Linked DNA regions of Homo sapiens: region 1 is linked to region 2. Evidence: fine-mapped expression QTL. A gene starts in region 2. The other region holds a variant in brackets. All regions are shown on one strand. Distances are from middle to middle.

Region 1 (9,141 bases), 24 kb after region 2:
TAAAAAAAAAAAGGCTTTTATTTTGAAATAATTATATATTCACAAGGAATTGCAAAGATAGTCCAGAGAGGTTCTGCATAGTCTTCAGCAGTTTTCCTTATTGATTATATCTTACCTAACTACAATACAATAACAACGCCAGGAAACTGGTATTGCCACAAAATGCGTATATAGTTCTGTGCAGTTTTTATGCTGTTAATATATAGGGCTATTCCATCATCACAAAAATCTCCCTCATACTATCCTTTTATAGTCACCCCATCCTCTTCCCTCTTTCAACTCTAAGCCATGACAACCACTAATCTCCATTTATGGCCTTTAACCTTCCTCTTCTTATAATACAATTATCTTAAAAATTTACTCTATATAAATTAAGAGCTACTTCAGTGTTCTAATGTTTGCTTCAACCTTGAAACATAATTTAGAAAACTCAAGAAGTTAAGTCTGTTGTATTTACTTATATTCTTACTCGTTCTGTTGTTCTTCCTGATGTTCTCAGATTCTATCTTTTATTATTTCCATTATATTTCAAGAACTTCCTTTAGCCATTCTTTCAGGGTAGGTCTGCTGGCAACAATTTCTCTTTATCTGATTTTGATTCCCCATCTAATTTTTAAAGGGTATTTTCACTGGATGGAATTTTGTATTGATAACTTTTTTCTTTCTGCTCTTGAAAAATGTTCACTATAGTGTCTGATGATAAATCCGCTGTCATTTGAATTGTTGTCACAAATTAATTGATAATGTATTTTTTCCCTTTAGGTAATGTATAATTTTTCTCTCTAGATTTTTTTCTTTGTATTTAGTTATTTAGAATTTTTTATTATGATATGTCTCTAGGAGGAGTTCTCTGGGTTTTTTTCCGTTTGAGATTCACTCAGAATCTTAAATCTGTGAATTTCTGTCATTTACATTTTTGGAAATTTGTTAGCCATTATTTATTTTAATATTCTTCTAGCCTTACCTTCCTTCTCTTCCAAAATTCCAATGACATGGATGTTAGATCTTTTGTTATGGTCTCACAGGTCCCTGAGGCTCTGTTTATTTTTTGCCAGTCAATTTTCTTTTTGTTGTTTGGAGTGGGTCATTTATTTTGTTCTATCTTCAAGTTCACTGATTCTTTCTTCTGTTTTCTCCATTCTGCTGTTGAGCCCATCTAGTTAGTTTTAATTTTTGTTACTGTATTTTTCAGCTCTAAAATTTCCTTTTGATTTTTTAATAGCTTCTATTTATCTATTGAGACTTTTTCTTTTCTGTCTTTTTTAAAAAGTTTGTTTTTATCACGTTTGTAATTGCTCATTAAAGGATTTTTATTATCACTGTTTAAAAATCCTTGTCAGAGAATTTTAATATTTCTGTCATCTATCGATTGTCTATTTTCATGCAGGTTGATACTTTTCTGGGTCTTAGTATGATGCATGATTATTCACTGAAACCTGGACATTTTTGGTGTTATGTTATGAGACTATCTTAATAAATTTTCTGTTTTAGCTGTCCTCCTCTGATTCCACTCTTGTAAGGGTAGGGAATTAGGAAATAATGCCCACTTATTTTTGGGGGAAGATGAAATTCCAGTTTCCCCAAATGGCCTCAGTTGGCACCTAGGGCGGGAGTACTGATTCCCCACTATGCCTTGCTAATACCACTCTGCCTGAGAAGAATAGGAGGACTTTGCCACTTTTCCCCATTCAGCCTCCATGAGGCCACAGGGGAGATGACCTCATTAACACTGAGTGACGGTGAATGTCCCGACTTTCTACTAGGTTTCTGACGCTAACCCGGAGGTGAATGAAAAGAGTACTTTGTTATCACCTAGTGGGTGTGGAAGTCTAGGCTCCCTGTGTGGTCTTCACAGACACTGTGAGAGTAGACCTCACTGTGACCTCACGAATATAAAAATCCAGGTTTCTCCTTGGCCTTCTTTGACATCACTCTGACAGGTAAGTTGAGGTGATTCCTTCCAGCCTGGCAATGATAGGAATCTAGATTGTTTATTTGACCTGTGTTAGTGAGCGTGAATTTGTAGGGGTTTTTCTTCTACGGTACTTAGGTGGAGTAGAGTAGATATTGTCTAAAAATGTTCTGTATTTCTAGGTTGTCCCTTTCCTGCTCTTTGGTTACATTAACTGACTTTTGTTGAAATTTCTTGTTGATCAGCTCCTGCTGGTGTTTTTGACTTGCTGCCTTCTTCAACACTAAGTTTGGGATATAAGAGGATAAAAAAAATTCCCAAAACTCACGAGCATAATCTTTTTCAAGACCAGAGGTCTCTAACTTGTCGGCTTTCTTCTCTCCATGTTTCAGAGTCATCGTATGCTAGTTTTATATATAAATGTCCTGACTGTTTAGTTGCACTTATTGGGAATAGTAGAAAAAAGTACTACTTCTACTCCATATGTGCAGAAGTGGAATGAAAAACTTCTGATTATGGAATTCAGTTTAGTTAAGTTGATATTCTATGCAGCTTTTCTCTTTCTCCTTGGGTCAGTTATTGTAATATGAATATTTTAAGGAATTTGACTATGTCATGTATATATTCAAATTTGTTGGAATATAGTTTTTCATAAAGTTATTTTCTTATGCTTAAAATCTCTGCCATAATGTCGCTTTTTCTCTAATATTGGCAATTTGTTTCTCTCTTTTTTCTAGATAAGTCTATGTTGTAGTTTATAAATTTTATTAATCTTTTTATTGAACCAACTTTGGTTTCATTGATTTTTCTCTATTTTCAGTTATATATTTTACCGGTTTACACTTTATTATTTCCTTATTTCTGATTCCTTTCTATTTAATTTGCTCTTCATTTTCTGACTTCTTAAGGTAGGAGTTTAGGCCACTGATTTCACATCTTCTTTTCTAATAAAAAGATTTAATTCACAGATTTCCCTTTACACACTATTTTAGCTGCATCCCCCCAAATTTTGACCTTTTCAAAGAATTTTGATTCAGTTCAAAATATTTTCTAAATTTCTCATCTTTTTTTCCTTTTTTACACATTAGTTGGTAAAATGTGTTAATTTCTAAATATTGAGAATTTTTTGGGTATATTTTGATTATTGATTTTTAATTTCATTTTGATGTTTTGAATTATTTCTGACAAAAAATCTATGATAATACTTAGATTTATTCTTTTTTGGGTGTGTATATATATAAATATATAAACATATAGATATATATCACAGATATATAACAAAAAGATATATGTTTTGTTGTTCTTGGGTAAGGTGGTCTATAAATATTAATTAGATTAGAGTGGTTGATAGTGTTCAGATTTTCTATGTCCTTATTTGTATTTTGCCTACTTGATCTATCAGTGGTTGGAACAGATGTGTTGAATTATATTTCTACATGTTTAAACCCCATAATACATTGAATTATTTTTGCTTTATACTCTCAATTACTATTTAGAGAAATTAAAACAGATTTAAAAAATCCTACATACTTACTATTTTAAGCTTTATTCACTCCTTTGAGTAGAACCAAGTTTTCATTGTGATCATTTTCCTTTTGCCAAAAGAATGCCCTTAACTACTTGCTTGAGTGCATGTTTGTGGCTGATAAATTCTTTTCACTCCCACTTTTGAAAAATGTCTTTATTTTGCCTTTTGTTTTTTAAAGACTGTTTCTTTAAAAGTGGATTTAGAATTCTAGATAGACATTCTTTTCTTTCAGCACCGTAGGATATCATTACATTGTTTTTTGTGTTAAATCGTTTCTGACACAAAATTTATGACAATACTTAGATTTATTCTTTTTAAAATATTGATTCCTTTAGTTCTGTCTGGTTTTTATAATTTTTTATCACTATTTTTCAGAAATTTGACTTGCTGTGATTGACTTTGAGTTCTTCCTGCTTGGGATAAATTGAGTTTCTTGTATACTGAATTTAAAATTTTACCAAATTTGGAAACATTTTCAGCCATTATATCTTCAACTTTTTTTTTTTCACTTTCTTTCCTGTCTCTCTTCTATCATTTTGTGAATGTTTATATAATATATAAATATATTTGTATTTGGCATTTCTTAGAATTGTCTGTACTCCAGTATGCATAGTTTCTGTTGTTATATATTGTCGTTTCTCATTTTTCCTGAAGTGTCTAATGTGCTGTTAATCATACCCCATGAAATTCTTATTTCAGATATTATATTTTTTATCTCCAACAGTTTCCTTTGATTATTTTTATATATTCTATTTCCCTATTTACTAGACTTATGTTTTTCTTTATATTCTTAAAATTATCCTATTTATATTTATAAAAGCTTGTTTAGAATTATTCTTCGTAAATTCTTTCATCACTGTCTTTCTTGGATCTGTTTATATTGATTGATTTTTTCCTGTATAGTGGTTAAATTTTCTGCTTCCTTACATGTTTGGTAATTTTTGATTGGATGACAAATATTTAAATTTTTACATTTTTGAGGGATTTAAAAAAAATTTATTTAAAATGTGTATGATCTTTTCATGACAGTCTTGATTATTACAGGCCATGTTTTTAAGCTTTTTGAAGGTGGTCCTGGTATAGCTTTTATTCTAGGGCAGTTTAGTCTCACTATTAAGGTGTGACCCAAGGGATTTCTTGTGAATGTTCGTATGTTCAATGAGGTCTCTTCACTCTGGCTGGTGGAAACTCAAACAATTCCCAGCCCTGTGTGAACTCAGTGAATTGTTTAGTTTA[C/T]AGATTCTTGATATTTGTTCTTTCCCAGCAGTAGTTCTTCTCTGGCCTCCTGGAATGTCACTTTATGTGTTTGTAAATTGGCATTCAGCCAAAGACTTAAGGAAAACCCTATGCATATTTCTGTAGTTCTTTCAGTATGTAACCCTTTCTATGCCTAACCCATCCTCTGGTCCACAATTTCTAACCCTCGTGGTCTCCCTGAACTTGAATCTTTTTCCCCTCAGCTCTGTTAATATTATCCTTGCTTGTGCTATGGTCCAGAAATTACCTCCAGGCAAAAAGCTCGGGTGATCGTAGAACTCACTTCATTGTTTATCCTCTCAGGAATTACCTCCTATATTGCCTATTGTATAATTCATGAAAAACAGTTGTTTCAGTATTTGTCTACTTGTCTTGTTGTCCAATCTCGTAACAGTTACTCCTTTATGAAAAGAAGTGAAGGTTTGTGCCTTATGCATAGTTAATGTTTACCTTATCCTTCTCTTCCTCTTTATTCCTAAATAATGCTCTTGGGTTTTTTTCCCCTCATCCTTTTAAATCTATGTAAAAATATCATATGTGCTACTTGCTTATTTCATTTATTCTATGCTAACATGTTTTACTGGTTACTTACTTACTTGCTACCTATACTGGACACATCTTACACATATTTCCCACCACATTTTTTTGCTCTTTATAGTAATTCTTTATATGTTTGAGGTTTAAAATTTTCAAGTACTTATTAAGAATTGTCTGGACAGCTAGTTTATGATAGATTTCTCCATAAATATACACATGTGGTTATTTTCTTAGATATAAGGAAAGAATATCTTTAAAATTTTTTAGTCAAAAAGGTCCCTGGTACATGATGAGACTCGTTCATTTTTCATTTTTGGTCAAGCATTATTGGCATGATCTCTTCCTACAGTGGTTCTTCAGGTCAAAGTTACTTTGTAATATTGTTCTGAGTCTTTTTTTGTGTATATAAATGATTTTCTCAAGCTGATTGAAATTTTGGAAAAAATGCTATCCTAGGTATTTTATTATGTATTTACTAAATCTCTTTGGCCTGGCTGGATGCAATTGTGAGAATAAAACTAAGCTTGAGTTACCCTTTTGCTATTATACTCTACCTTCCTTTACAGTGATCTGCTGGCCTCCCTGAGTTCTGATCCCTTTTTTTGAGATGTTTAAAACTCTCTTTGCTTATTTTGTTCCTTGCAAAGTAAAATTCTGACTTGGGTTAAGGGTGAAGTTTTCACTGGGCTATTGTACTAAAGGAGTGAATGTTTTGGTGAAGCTCAAAGAGGTTAAAAGCTTCTGTTTCTTCATGGTGTGTTCTGTTTGGCTACTCCTCTCAAAGGGTTTACATGAAGCAGACATGATAAAACAGCCCAAGGTGCTTTTTTCTTGGGAGAGCCTTATCAAGGAGATTGTGGTAGCTGGCTTAGCTCTGTTTTTCTCTTATTGAAATTTTCCTTGAGTTTATATATCCTTGATTCTTCCTGATAGAGTGGAAAAATGCAAAGGGTCAAGATATGGGTGCAAATTTAAAGGCCAAAAACACCATTAGTTACAAATGGCCAACAAATATATGAAAAAATGCTCAACATCACTAATGATCAGGGAAATGCAAATCAAAACCACAGTGCGATACCACTTTACTCCCGGAAGAATGGCCATAATCAAAAAACCAAAAAAACAGTAGATGTTGGCATGGATGTGGTGATCAGGGAACACTTCTACGCTGCTGGTGGGAATGTAAACTAGTACAGCCACTTTGGAAAACAGTGTGGAGATTCCTTAAAGAACTAAAAGTAGAACTGCCGTTTGATTCAGCAATCCCACTATTGGGTATCTACCCAGAGGAAAATAAATCATTATATGAAAAGATACTTGCATGTGCATGTTTATAGCAGCACGATTCACAATTGCAAAATTGTGGAAACAACCCAAATGCCCATCAATCAGTGAGTAAATAAAGAAACTGTAGTATATATACAGGATGGGATACTACTCAGCCATAAAAAGGAACGAATTTATGCATTTGCAGCAACCTGGGTGAAATTAGAGACTGTTATTCTAAGTGAAGTAACTCAGGAATGGAAACCAAACATCATTTGTTCTCACTGATATGTGGGAGCTAAGTTATGAGGATGCAAAGGCATAAGAATGATGGACTTTGGGGACTTGGGGGGAAGGGTGGGAGGGGGAGAGGGATAAAAGACTACAAATAGGGTGCAGGGTATACTGCTCGGGTGATGGTTGCATGAAAATCTCACAAATCACCAGTAAAGAACTTAACTTGTGTAACCAAATACCACCTGTATCCCAATAACCTATGGGAAAATAAAAAAGTAAAAAGGTAGAAAAACCAGTGAATTAAAAAAAAATTTGGTAATAAATACCAAGGAACTCAAAAAAAAAAAAAAAAAAAAAGGCTTAGAAAAGTCTTTACCAAAGCAGTTCAGTGTCTCACCAGAGCTGGCTGTTTTACATAAGATTTTGACTTCAATGCCTTATAGTACTGAAAACATACATTGTCTTGAGTGTCCACTTTCTGAATCTTCATAAACTAGTGCTGGTGGTAGCAGGTTGCCTGAAGCTTTAGCATTCCTTAACTTTGTTTACCTTAACTTTTCTTTTACTATGAAGACATGGGTAAATTTTAGCATAGTTTGACAGATTGTAGTTAGAATGTTCAAGATCCACATATTTAAGAAATAAAGTTCCTCATAAAGTTTAAAACTGACATCAGGAGCAGCTTCTGCTGTTAATACTACAACTTGCAAGTATTGTAAGTGCTAGGTGTAGTTAGTAAAATCTGGACTGATGAAAATAGTGATTCTGAAATTTTAGGTCAAAATTCCACGTGGAAAAACAAGTTTGACAATAGAGAATATCTTTATCTCTGCCTCTTGCTAGTAGAAAACTGGTACTAGCTAATTATTTTGGGGGACAAAAAATCTCATCTCAAAACAGGCAGCACTTTAATATGTTACACTTTGGATTTTGGATTGATGGTGCCATGAGTGGTGGATTGTACAGAAATTGATCACCAGGATTATTTTCTTTCAGTTTCAGCTTCAATTTTCCTTATGTGACTACAATTGGTATCCACCTGTCAACATCTAGGACCAAAGAGGCAATCAAACAAGGAATAAATTCCTAATTTCTCTCATTCCTCAACAGGCTATTAATTTAACTCTGATTTATTTCTTAGATATTCTCTAATTTCTGTAATTGTGTGTATGATTATATCCAAAGAGAGGAAAAAAATGACCAAGTGGTGCCGATTTGAGGGATTGACATGAGACACCCAAGGCTTTTATTTTTGGTCAGGGATCGTCAGTGGATAGTCATGAAGTCTTACTCCCAGTTGTCATTTCAGGAATTTAGAATAGAGGTCAGTCACTGCTGGAAACAAACGGAATTAGAGATTAGTGGTGTCACCAATGCAAATTCTTTAAAAAAGAATTTGTGTGTGCATAGTAGGTGCATATACTTATGGGGTACATGAGATATTTTGATACAGGCATACATTGTGTAATAATCATCTGGGCAAATGGGGTATCCATCATCTCAAGCATTTATCCTTTGTTTATTGTTACAAACAATCCAATTATACTTTTATTTTTACATGTACAATAAATTATTGTTGACTGTAATCACTCTGTTGTGCTGCAAATTCTGACTTTAAAAGAAAAATAGTTTATTTCAGATGCCAATTTCTCACCTCTCAATAAAATTGCTCTCTCAGATAAGGTGAATGCAAGAACAGAGTGGTAGCATTTACCTCTTTTTAAGAAAAAATTCAACTATTTATTTATTTGTTTTTTAAATTTTTGTGGGTAATTATAGGTGTATATATTTATGGGGTACATGAGATGTTTTGACACAGGTGTGCAACGTGAAATAAGCACATCATGAATAATGGAGTATCCATCCCCTCAAACATTTAGCCATTGAGTTGCAAGCAATCTAATTACACTCTTTAAGTTATTGAAAAATGTACAGTTATTATTGACTATAGTCACCCTGTTGTGCTATCAAATAGTAGGTTTTATTCATCTGTCAAACTATGCTAAATTTACCTGTGTCTTCATGGTAGAAAAAATTAAGATAAACAGCTCTTTATGTTCATGAGTTCAGTTGTGATTTTTAGATCCCATATATAAATATGGGATAACATACATTGTTTGTCTTTCACAACTGGTTGCTCATAGTAACCACCAATGATGCTTTGAATTTCTTCGATATCAGTTGTAATGTCTCCTTTTTCATTTCTGATTTTATCTATTTAGACCTCTCTTTTTTCTTATTTAGTCTGACTAAATGTTTGTCAATTTTGTTTAACTTTTCAGAAAACCAACTTTTCGTTTCATTGATCTTTTGTGTTGTTTTTTTCAATTTCATTTATTTCTGCTTTGATCTTTATTATTACTTTTGTTCTACTAATTTTGAGTTTGGTTTGCTCTTGCTTTTC
Region 2 (9,141 bases):
TATTTATAATTATAGCATATATTTATATATAATTTATTATAATATAACACAAATGTATACTATGATATATATTATATATAATATATAGTATATATAATATATAATTTGTATGTTATAATTATATATATTTTATATATATATCAGAGGTAGGAACAGAATTATTTGTTCCCACTTGGTTATTCAAAACTAGCAGTATTACTCCAAGGCACTTGACTACTATTTGCAGTGGTAATATGAATGGAGCAAACAAATGGTCAAGTACTTTGTGGTAATACTGCTGATTTTGAATAGCTATATGGGGACAAATAATTCTGTTCCTACTTCTGTTACTTAGAGATATAGAAACTAACTTTGAGAATATTTTCTTGGCCGGGCGCGGTGGCTCACGCCTGTAATCCCAGCACTTTGGGAGGCCGAGGCGGGCGGATCACAAGGTCAGGAGATCGAGACCATCCTGGCTAACACGGTGAAACCCCGTCTCTACTAAAACTACAAAAAATTAGCCGGGCATGGTGGCGGGCGCCTGTAGTCCCAGCTACTTGGGAGGCTGAGGCAGGAGAATGGCGTGAACCCGGGAGGCAGAGCTTGCAGTGAGCCAAGATCGTGCCACTACACTCCAGCCTGGGTGACAGAGCAAGACTCCGTCTCAAAAAAAAAAAAAAAGAGAGAATTTTTTTTAATAAAATGTTTCTTTACAGATGAATATATATTTGTTTCTTGGGCCAAGTAAAACAGTAAGTACAAAAAGAAATGTTTCTAAACATGTAGCCACCGGCAATCCTTGATTATGTCTAAAACCACTGTCTTCCAGAGTCAATATAGCAAAGACTTAGTTACCCCGAATTCTCAGAGTTTGGGGTATAGTATAATTTTCTGGGAAGGCTTATATAAAATTATTCCAATTTTTTTTTTTTTGGAGGACTGGGAAATAGAGGACTGGGAATTTGAGCAAATTTTGAGGAATCTTAAATTGCTATTAGGACACCAATATGACGCAGCAATCAATCATTATTTTCTAGGACTCTGGTTACCAAAGTTATAGACAGCGAGCCAATTCTCCATTATTTTGGCAAAAGATAATGCAAATTTATGTTATTGTTTGCTAGTTGATTTGATTCACTGCCTAAAATAAACTGATTCCTTCTGTTTTAAAAAATCCATTTTGAAGTCACACACAACAAAAATCATTCAGTTAGTTGAATTTGCTTTATAATTAGACTATGAGTGAAGACACCAGATATTTTAAAAAGCAATCCAAATGACTGAGTTTAGAAAATAAAATGAGATTACAGCACCTCTTGAGAGTGTCTGAGGAGGCCTCTTTTCCTTTTTTATTGCAATGGCAAGGTTGGAAGAAACTGTGACGAGTAAGAGGCAGAGACCCAAAGCTGAGTGTAGCATCATGTCTTCTAGAGACTCTCTCAGAAGAAGCTAGATGACAGAAAGGAATTCTCAGAATCCAGTGAATTACTTCAAGCTATTATTAGAAGATATTTGCTAAGAGTTGGACCAATACTGTGATGACAGACTGTTCAGCTTTTTTGGTTTGACATGGTATAACCAACCACATAGAACTTTCATTCACATTTTATTTTTAAAATACTTAATCAACTCAGTACATGCTCAGTTGGTGAGAAGTCATGTTCTGAGCCTCCTGGGCATGGTGCTGTATAATTAAAAAAGAGCTGGATCAGGGCACACGAAGCCTGCTTCTGAACCGCCCTGTAGTGTTCACACCAACAAGACGAAACTCAAATAAGATCATGTTGTTTGATGTCTTGTAAACTATGAAGTGACTTTTAGCATGCAGAAATATTCTTTGCCTTTTGATTCTCCTTCATCTAATAGGTCAAAATATTTTAACTCTATACTAAGATAAGATTATACATGAATAAATATTGCTTAAAATAGAAATCAGAGGAAAAATAGAATATGGAGGATTCTTGTCCTTCAGTTCCTTTATAGTTTCTTACCTTTCTCATCCTTCCAACAATTACTCAGACTTTTGCCCTTCAGTTTATGATACAGCTCTTTATAAAAATCAAGTACTATCATATTACTATAAATTAGACATATGTATAGAGAAGAATAGACTGTCATGATTACATTCTCTCCTGGTTAGCTAGAATTCAAACTGATTCTTAACTCAATGTGCATCTTTTATACTTTGCACGTTAAGATAAAAACTGAAGTCCAAAGTTGGGCCTGATCTGGTCATAAACCACTTGATAAATATATTACAGGAAGTCTTTAATACTTGTGAGATGTTTAGTTACAGCATTAGCATATAAAACTGATTTGAAAATGGTTGACTCATGCAGTTTTGAAACTTTACCTCAAAATATAAAATAAATATACAGACATCATTCACATTGATTTGAAGTTCCTTTAAGACGTCTTTCCTATTGGCTTACATTATTTAGTATTGAACTCATCACCAAAATAGTAAAATTTCCTTAGCCAAAATGGCTAGTGACTGATTCTTTAGTGATTCTGTTCAAACAAAGATGTTGCTATATTTTATTGTAGTAGGCATTGTGGAAAATGAAAAGATATATAAGACACAATGTTTTGGCATTGGTAAAACATTTGGCAATTTTAATCACCTAGTTATTGTAAAGTAGCAACCGCAGTCGTGGAGGAGAACAACAATTTGGTGGTAAAGAAGTTTACAGATTCTAGATTTCTCCAGACATTTCCTCATTCCTCCCATTATACTGTTTTCCCCTTCCCAGTGGTGTATCTATTGCAGCCCCTCTATGGACTGAAAATAGTTACCACTCCAGGTTAACCTTACTTTATTTCCCTCCCTAATCCCCAGTTGTCCCTCCCTCCTTCCCTTCCCCTTCCTTCCTTCCCCTTCCTTCTTTCCCCTTCCTTCCTTCCTTCCTTCTTTCCTTCCTTCCTTCCTTCCTCTTTCTCTCTCTCTTTCTTTCTTTTCTTTCTCTCTCCTTTCTTTCTTTTTTTTTTTTTTTTGCTCTTGTCACCCAGGCTGGAGTGCAGTGGGGCCATCTCCACTCACTGCAACCTCCGCCTCCCAGGTTCAAGCGATTCTCCTGCCTCAGCTTCCCAAGTACGTGGGACTACAGGTGTCCACCATCATGCCCGGCTAATTTTTGTATTTTTAGTAGAGATGGGGTTTCACCATGTTGGCCAGGCTGATCTCAAACTCCTGACCTCAAATGATCCAACTGCTTCGGCCTCCCAAAGTGCTGGGATTACAAGGGTGAGCTACATCGCCCGGACTCCTTTCCTCTCCCCTCCTTTCCCCTCCTTTCCCCTCCTTTCCCCTCCTCTTTCCCCTCCTCTCCCCTCCCCTCCCCTCCCCTCCTCTCCCCTCCTTTCCCCTCCTTTCCCCTCCTCTCCCCTCCTTTCCCCTCCTTTCCTGTCCTTTCTTTCCAGGCATATAAAAACCCTGTTAAACAATTATCACGGTGCCTGATAAGAATTTCAGTTTAAGTTCTCATAACTTATTAAACCATAAAACATTTCAGAATGTCATCTTGTACCTTAAGGCCTTGGTCATCTTGTACTTTAAAGACTGAAACAAATACAGGGTGGATTTTAGTACAGGACAGGGACAGTTGACTCTGGAACACAAAGCTCAACCCAGGGAAGGCAGCCTTAGTTAGACAGGTTGGGAGTTGCAGTGGAGGAACTAAAGCAACCACCTAGGACAGGATCTTAACCTGGATCCAGCAGGCTTCTAGAAGGCCTGTGGCTGAGCTACAGAAGGCTCAAAACCCCTGGAAATTGTGTGCAAAATTTTATCTGCCTCTGTTCCTTTTCCGTGGGAATAGGGTCCAAAACGTCATTAAAATTCTTCCAGGGATCTTGGATATAAAGAAGAGTTAAGAAAAGTCAATCTGGAAGGAATCTTTAGAAAGATTTTTCTATGTTAGCTACAGAGACAAGCAGGTGGAATCTGCATTTTAAAAAAGAAAAAGCATAACCTCATCATTTTTGCTATTTTAAAGCTGCGAAGCTTAGAGTTAAGCGGGAACCATTTTTTCTTTAAAATTTCAAGTCTTTATGTATTATTGTCAAATACTTTCTAATTAAAAAATAAAAATCTTGGTTTTCTGGTTTTACATTGATAAATTATAAAATAGATATTAAATATATTCTGTGACAAAGCAGTACAACTTGTACACTGTAGATTTTGAATAAATAACGCTTTCCTTGGTAAAATATAGTGTAAACTGCTGAGGGTCCTTTAGTATCAGTTGCAAGGTTAAGCTACTTGGGGGAACACAGATAAATGTGGCATGGTTACAGGCCTACAGCAGCTTAAAATGCATTTGGGAGGCACATAACCATATGTCAGCAATTAGATTGTATAAACATTGGTCAATTAGCATTTTATGACATTAGTATTTTATTTTTCAAAAGTAATTTAACGTAAGTAACTGATATTATAAGTTCCTATATTTTAAAATAAAACAAGACTTAAAAGAATATAAAGAAGAGCTATCATTACTTGTAGAATACTTTTCAAAGAGTCGTTTTTGTGGTTGACGTCAATTTATTCTAATACCATTAATATAAATAGAGATAAAACTATGAAACCAGCAAAGGAAATCCAGTTCAGTAAAAGAAGAAAAATAAAAATTCATTTCACTTTCCTACCCTTTACTGAAAGCTTCACTTTTAAATAGCAAAAGGTGATTATTTAAATATAGCAAAGCTTGACCACTGATTAAGTAATCTGGAAAATTTGCTTGCTTACCTGACTTGGCCAGTGCTCTTGTTGGAAATGTATTCTGGATGTTTCTGGTTAAAAATGGGTGTGGATTTATAGACACACACACACACACCTGACCTACAACCTCACCTGCATAGAAACAAGAGCATAGTTACCGGAAAACAAACTTAGAAAAATAGGCTGGTCTGAAAAACTCTGTACTTCTTTCCAGTTCTCATGCTTCTCACACTAAAAAAGCTCTATTCTTTTTCTCTAAATTAAGATTGAATGTCCTCATAAAATAAGGTCAAATACCATCTTTGTGCTTCTTTCTCTTTTACCTTTTATTTCCCAAGGTAGTTTAATGTTTGGCTGAAGTTCAGCACAAAAAAAAAAAAGAAAAGGAAGAAAGAAAACGGAATGAATTTAAGAACTGTGTGCATGCCATTGTTCAAATAGAAATTCCTAAGGGTTACTCTGTTTACAGGAATATAATTAACAGCTAAAGAGATTGGGTCCTTTTTTTTTTGAGAGAGAAGGAAATAAAAATTCTGTTTTAAAGTTGAACATTTTCATAATTTGATTATTCTTTACAATTTTTCTATAAAACCTTTACTGCACAAAAAATTAGAAAAACAGGCCATTAGATAAGTTTAAATTTATCTAATAGTTAGATACTGTTGAATTAATTGAGAGTAATTATTTAATTACTGTTAAAATAACGTAAGGCAGTGTGTCATCAAATTTGGCATACCTGTTTTTTGTACAGCCCAGGAAACAGGAACGGTTTTGACATTTTTAAACGGTTGGGGAAAAAAACCCAAAAGAATCATATTTTGTGACATGTGAAAGTTATATGAAATTCAATTTCAGTGTCCTTAAGTAGAGAGAGATGTGGCGGATGGCATGCAGCCATGTGCATTTGCTTACTAGTGTCTATGGCTACTTTTGCACTGCAACAGCAAAGTCCGGTACAGTCCAGGACAGTGGATACCAAAATCTGTGCACACTCAAAGTCCCATATCTGGCCCTGCGTAACCCACAGATATGAAAAGTTGGTCCTCCGCATATGCAGGTTTGGCATCCCGTGAACACAGTATTTTTGATCCACTTTTGGTTGTGGATACAGAACTTGCCCATATGAAGGAATATATTAAAAAAAAATCCTTCTCTAAGTGAACCCACACAATTCAAATCTATGTTGTTTAAGGGTCAACTGTGCTTGTGACAGGGACTGTATGATCTGCAAAACCTAAAATATTTACTATCTTTAGTAAATGTTTACAGAAAATGTTTGTTGAACCTTAATCCAGGGTATTGTTTATAAATTCCTTCCTTCCTTCTTTCCTTCCTTTCTTCCTTTGCTTCCTTTCTTCCTCTCTCCCTCCCTCCCTTCCTCTCTTCCTCCCTTCCTCTCTTCCTCCCTTCCTCTCTTCCTCCCTTCCTCTCTTCCTCCATCCCTCCATCCCTCCATCCCTCCCTTCTCCCACCCTTTTTTTGTTTCTTTTTTTTGTGGGGAAGGGTCTAATTGCTCTGAATACATTAACAAATATACTGTGCAAGAATGGGAGTGATGATTGTCTTGCTCCTGATGTTAAAGCGGGTGTGCTTCCAGTATTTTAACTTTAGATGTAGTGCTGGATTTGGCTGAGTTGACCATGTTAAGAAGGTAACCATTATTCTTAAACTACATCTCTTAAAAGCAGGACTGTTGGATTTTGTTCTATAAAGATGGGCATATGGATTTTCTCATTTGTTATAGAAAATTTTACTGTTTTCCTAATTAAACTTTCCATTGTCCTGAAAGAAACTTCATGTAGCTAGGTTGTATATTCTTTAACTGTACTGCTGATTTGTGTACTTGTCTAACTGTGCTTTCTTCCTTACATAGGATTCTCAAAGGGACCCTTCCCTGGAACATGCTATTCAAATGGAATCCTTCTTGCTGAAGGTTATGAAACTTGACATATAATTTTAATTTTAAATCCAGCCAGCCTTTGCAAAGCAAAGAAATGGCTGGGCAATAATCCTTATATTTCTCTGTTAGTGAAAAGTCTGGGAAAGCTTTCAACTTCTTGTTGACTGAGAGTGGTTACGGAAAAATCTCCAAATATTCTGCATCCCTGTTAAACTTCTCACATAATATTCATTTAAATAAATTATAAGATAAGAGTGAGAAAGAGGAAGTCGAGTACCTGTGGGGTAGTGAAACTAGACCCTATAATGTCTGAGCTGATCAGTGTCTTTTGGTCTCTCCCACTAGGGTGATAATGCAATGTGTCCTCTAACCCAGGACAATTTTGAAAGTAAAAGGAGGTAATAAAGTCATTGGAATTATAGCATCTTAAAATAATATTTTGAAATATATATTTGTCATCCAAAATTTGTTTTATTGTGTAATAGATCACAAATGGTTCTATGAAAGATTATTCTTAGAAGTAAAATTATTTAAAGTATATTCATGTACATGATGGCAAATTATACAAATTATTCTTTGTATATAATTATGTTAATCATTTTCTTAACTGTACCTATCTGATACCAGGTGGCTGGTATTTTTCTGGCATTAACTGTCTTTATTTTTTCAATGTGACCTCATATTTATTTTTTCATAAAATTGCCTGCAATAATCTTCAAAATCAATCTTACGGTTAATGGATTTGGAATTGTCAACAGCTTCAATTGACTCTTCCTGTAGGTCATATTACATCCTATTTTTAATTAAGAAAATAATTTTTCTATAGCCGATGGGTTACCCAGTAATTTGAGAAAGTTCAGTTCACTGGAGGACAGTTTTAATTCTAATTTTAATCTTACTGAAATATTATCTCAAATATTGTCTTTTAGCCTCTGCTTAGAGTACCTTCTTCAACAGAAAATTTTACAAGATAAAACAAGTAACATAAGTCATCTTGCCTTATAATTATTTTAAATGTTTCATTAAATTTCCAAGCTACAAAATTGTAGGGCCTCTCTGTTTCATTCTATTCAGGAACAGAATATAAGTGTGTCTAATTATATACTCTTTTAATAATAAATCAAGCTGTTTTGCTCTTGGAGTTGATTCTTTTGAGGGCATTGTTCTATATTTTTACAAGTTTAATTGGTCACATAAATCATTGGTTAAATATAGGATTAGGATTACCTATTCACTTTGTGTGTGTGTGTGTGTGTGTGTGTGTGTGTATGTGTCCATCTGTTTGTCTGTATTTCAGTTTATCAGTCTCTTACTAAGAAAATATATATACATTTTAAAAGGCTGACAGTGGAAAGTAGGTATTCCTCTTGCCCAGTCTATGGGTCTTCTTGAGGCAATAACGGTTTATACATCTACCTATTTATGTTTGTATATTAACACAAATGGTGCCATTCAATGAATACTTCTGAACCTCTTTTTTATGTAATAATATTGAAGATTGTACCATATTAGGACAGGTATTTGTGAAACTATTCAGTAAATGAAAGAGAATAATGTCTTGCAGAGAGCATTTATGTATCACTGTTTTCTAAATCCTGTAGAGGCAAATAGTTATTTTTAAAAATATTGGGTTTGGAGAAAAAAGACTCTTTGGGTTAAAGGAATAGATACCTCCAGAATTCATTATTGAGCTGTGCAATTTTATACCAAACATTTAAATGCATAGTGTTTTTATAAGCCTCTCATAATCAATGTCTGTAACCTACAGGTTCTTGCTCTGTCAAAATTAGTTACACTTCCCATTGCAAAACAATAATGTTTTATTTCCATTAAGCATAAAGTCTCTGAACTTGCAGGGTATTACATCTAAACACTTGATAAACCTGTGGTATTTTTACAATATAAATATAAATGAGATTTATTCCTTGGTATTTGCCCTGTGAGCTAAGTAAGATTAAGTAGAATTGTGCATGTAGCTTTTGGATTAGAGATTCAAGTCCTTCAATCAGGCTCTTACCTGTAGCTTGTCGTGATAACTTTGTACTTTTTCCCATAAAAATGCTTTTATATCTTAAACAGGCATATCATTTTTTCCTGCCATGGTGGAGATCAGGGACTCAGCCTGGCCAGTTTCCTCAGCCCAGGTCAGGGAGGGCCTGTTTTGGAAGACATGAATAAAATTAAAATGGATTGTGCAGAGCTGGGAGGCAGCCATGGTAAATCTGAAGTGAGATCCCCAAATAGTTCTCAAGTAGATGAAGAATAGATACAGAAAATGGGAAGAAGAAAGCAGAGCCAGAGAGTAACAGAAGCAGGGAAAGGAGGGAGACAATAACGGGTGTGGGGAGGAAAGAGTGGTAGGGCTCTTGAGTGATGTGTGGGGCATTTGGCTCCGTTCAACAGGCTGGAGAATATGGATGTGGTCTTACCATGAGATTAGAGGATAAAGAACATTTTTAAGATGGCAAATAAGGTGTTATAATGTGATCCGAGTTTTAAAAGTTATGTTTTAACATGAAAAAATAAATATATTCATAAG

Which allele goes with the higher level. Positions count from the first base shown, and alleles are read on the strand shown. Sizes are in standard deviations (SD) of each study's normalised expression.
For the expression in lung of the gene that starts at base 4,769 in region 2, allele T in region 1 goes with a lower level than allele C (small effect, 0.19 SD a copy in GTEx).

What was found. PIP is the estimated chance that this variant, and not a neighbour inherited with it, causes the effect.
Region 1: its variant is fine-mapped to the expression of AGR3 in lung (TOPMed, PIP above 0.99).

What each region holds. Positions count from the first base shown.
Region 1 is chr7:16,900,735-16,909,875 of GRCh38, forward strand. No RefSeq gene overlaps it. Among named protein-coding and RNA genes, the nearest start is that of AGR3, 23 kb to the left of the region's middle. The variant C/T (reference allele first, on the strand shown) is at 4,677.
Region 2 is chr7:16,877,215-16,886,355 of GRCh38, forward strand. It overlaps AGR3 (anterior gradient 3, protein disulphide isomerase family member), which reads right to left and starts at 4,769. Exons shown (of 8, transcript NM_176813.5): 1 at 4,730-4,769; 2 at 1,296-1,431. The coding sequence starts at 1,404.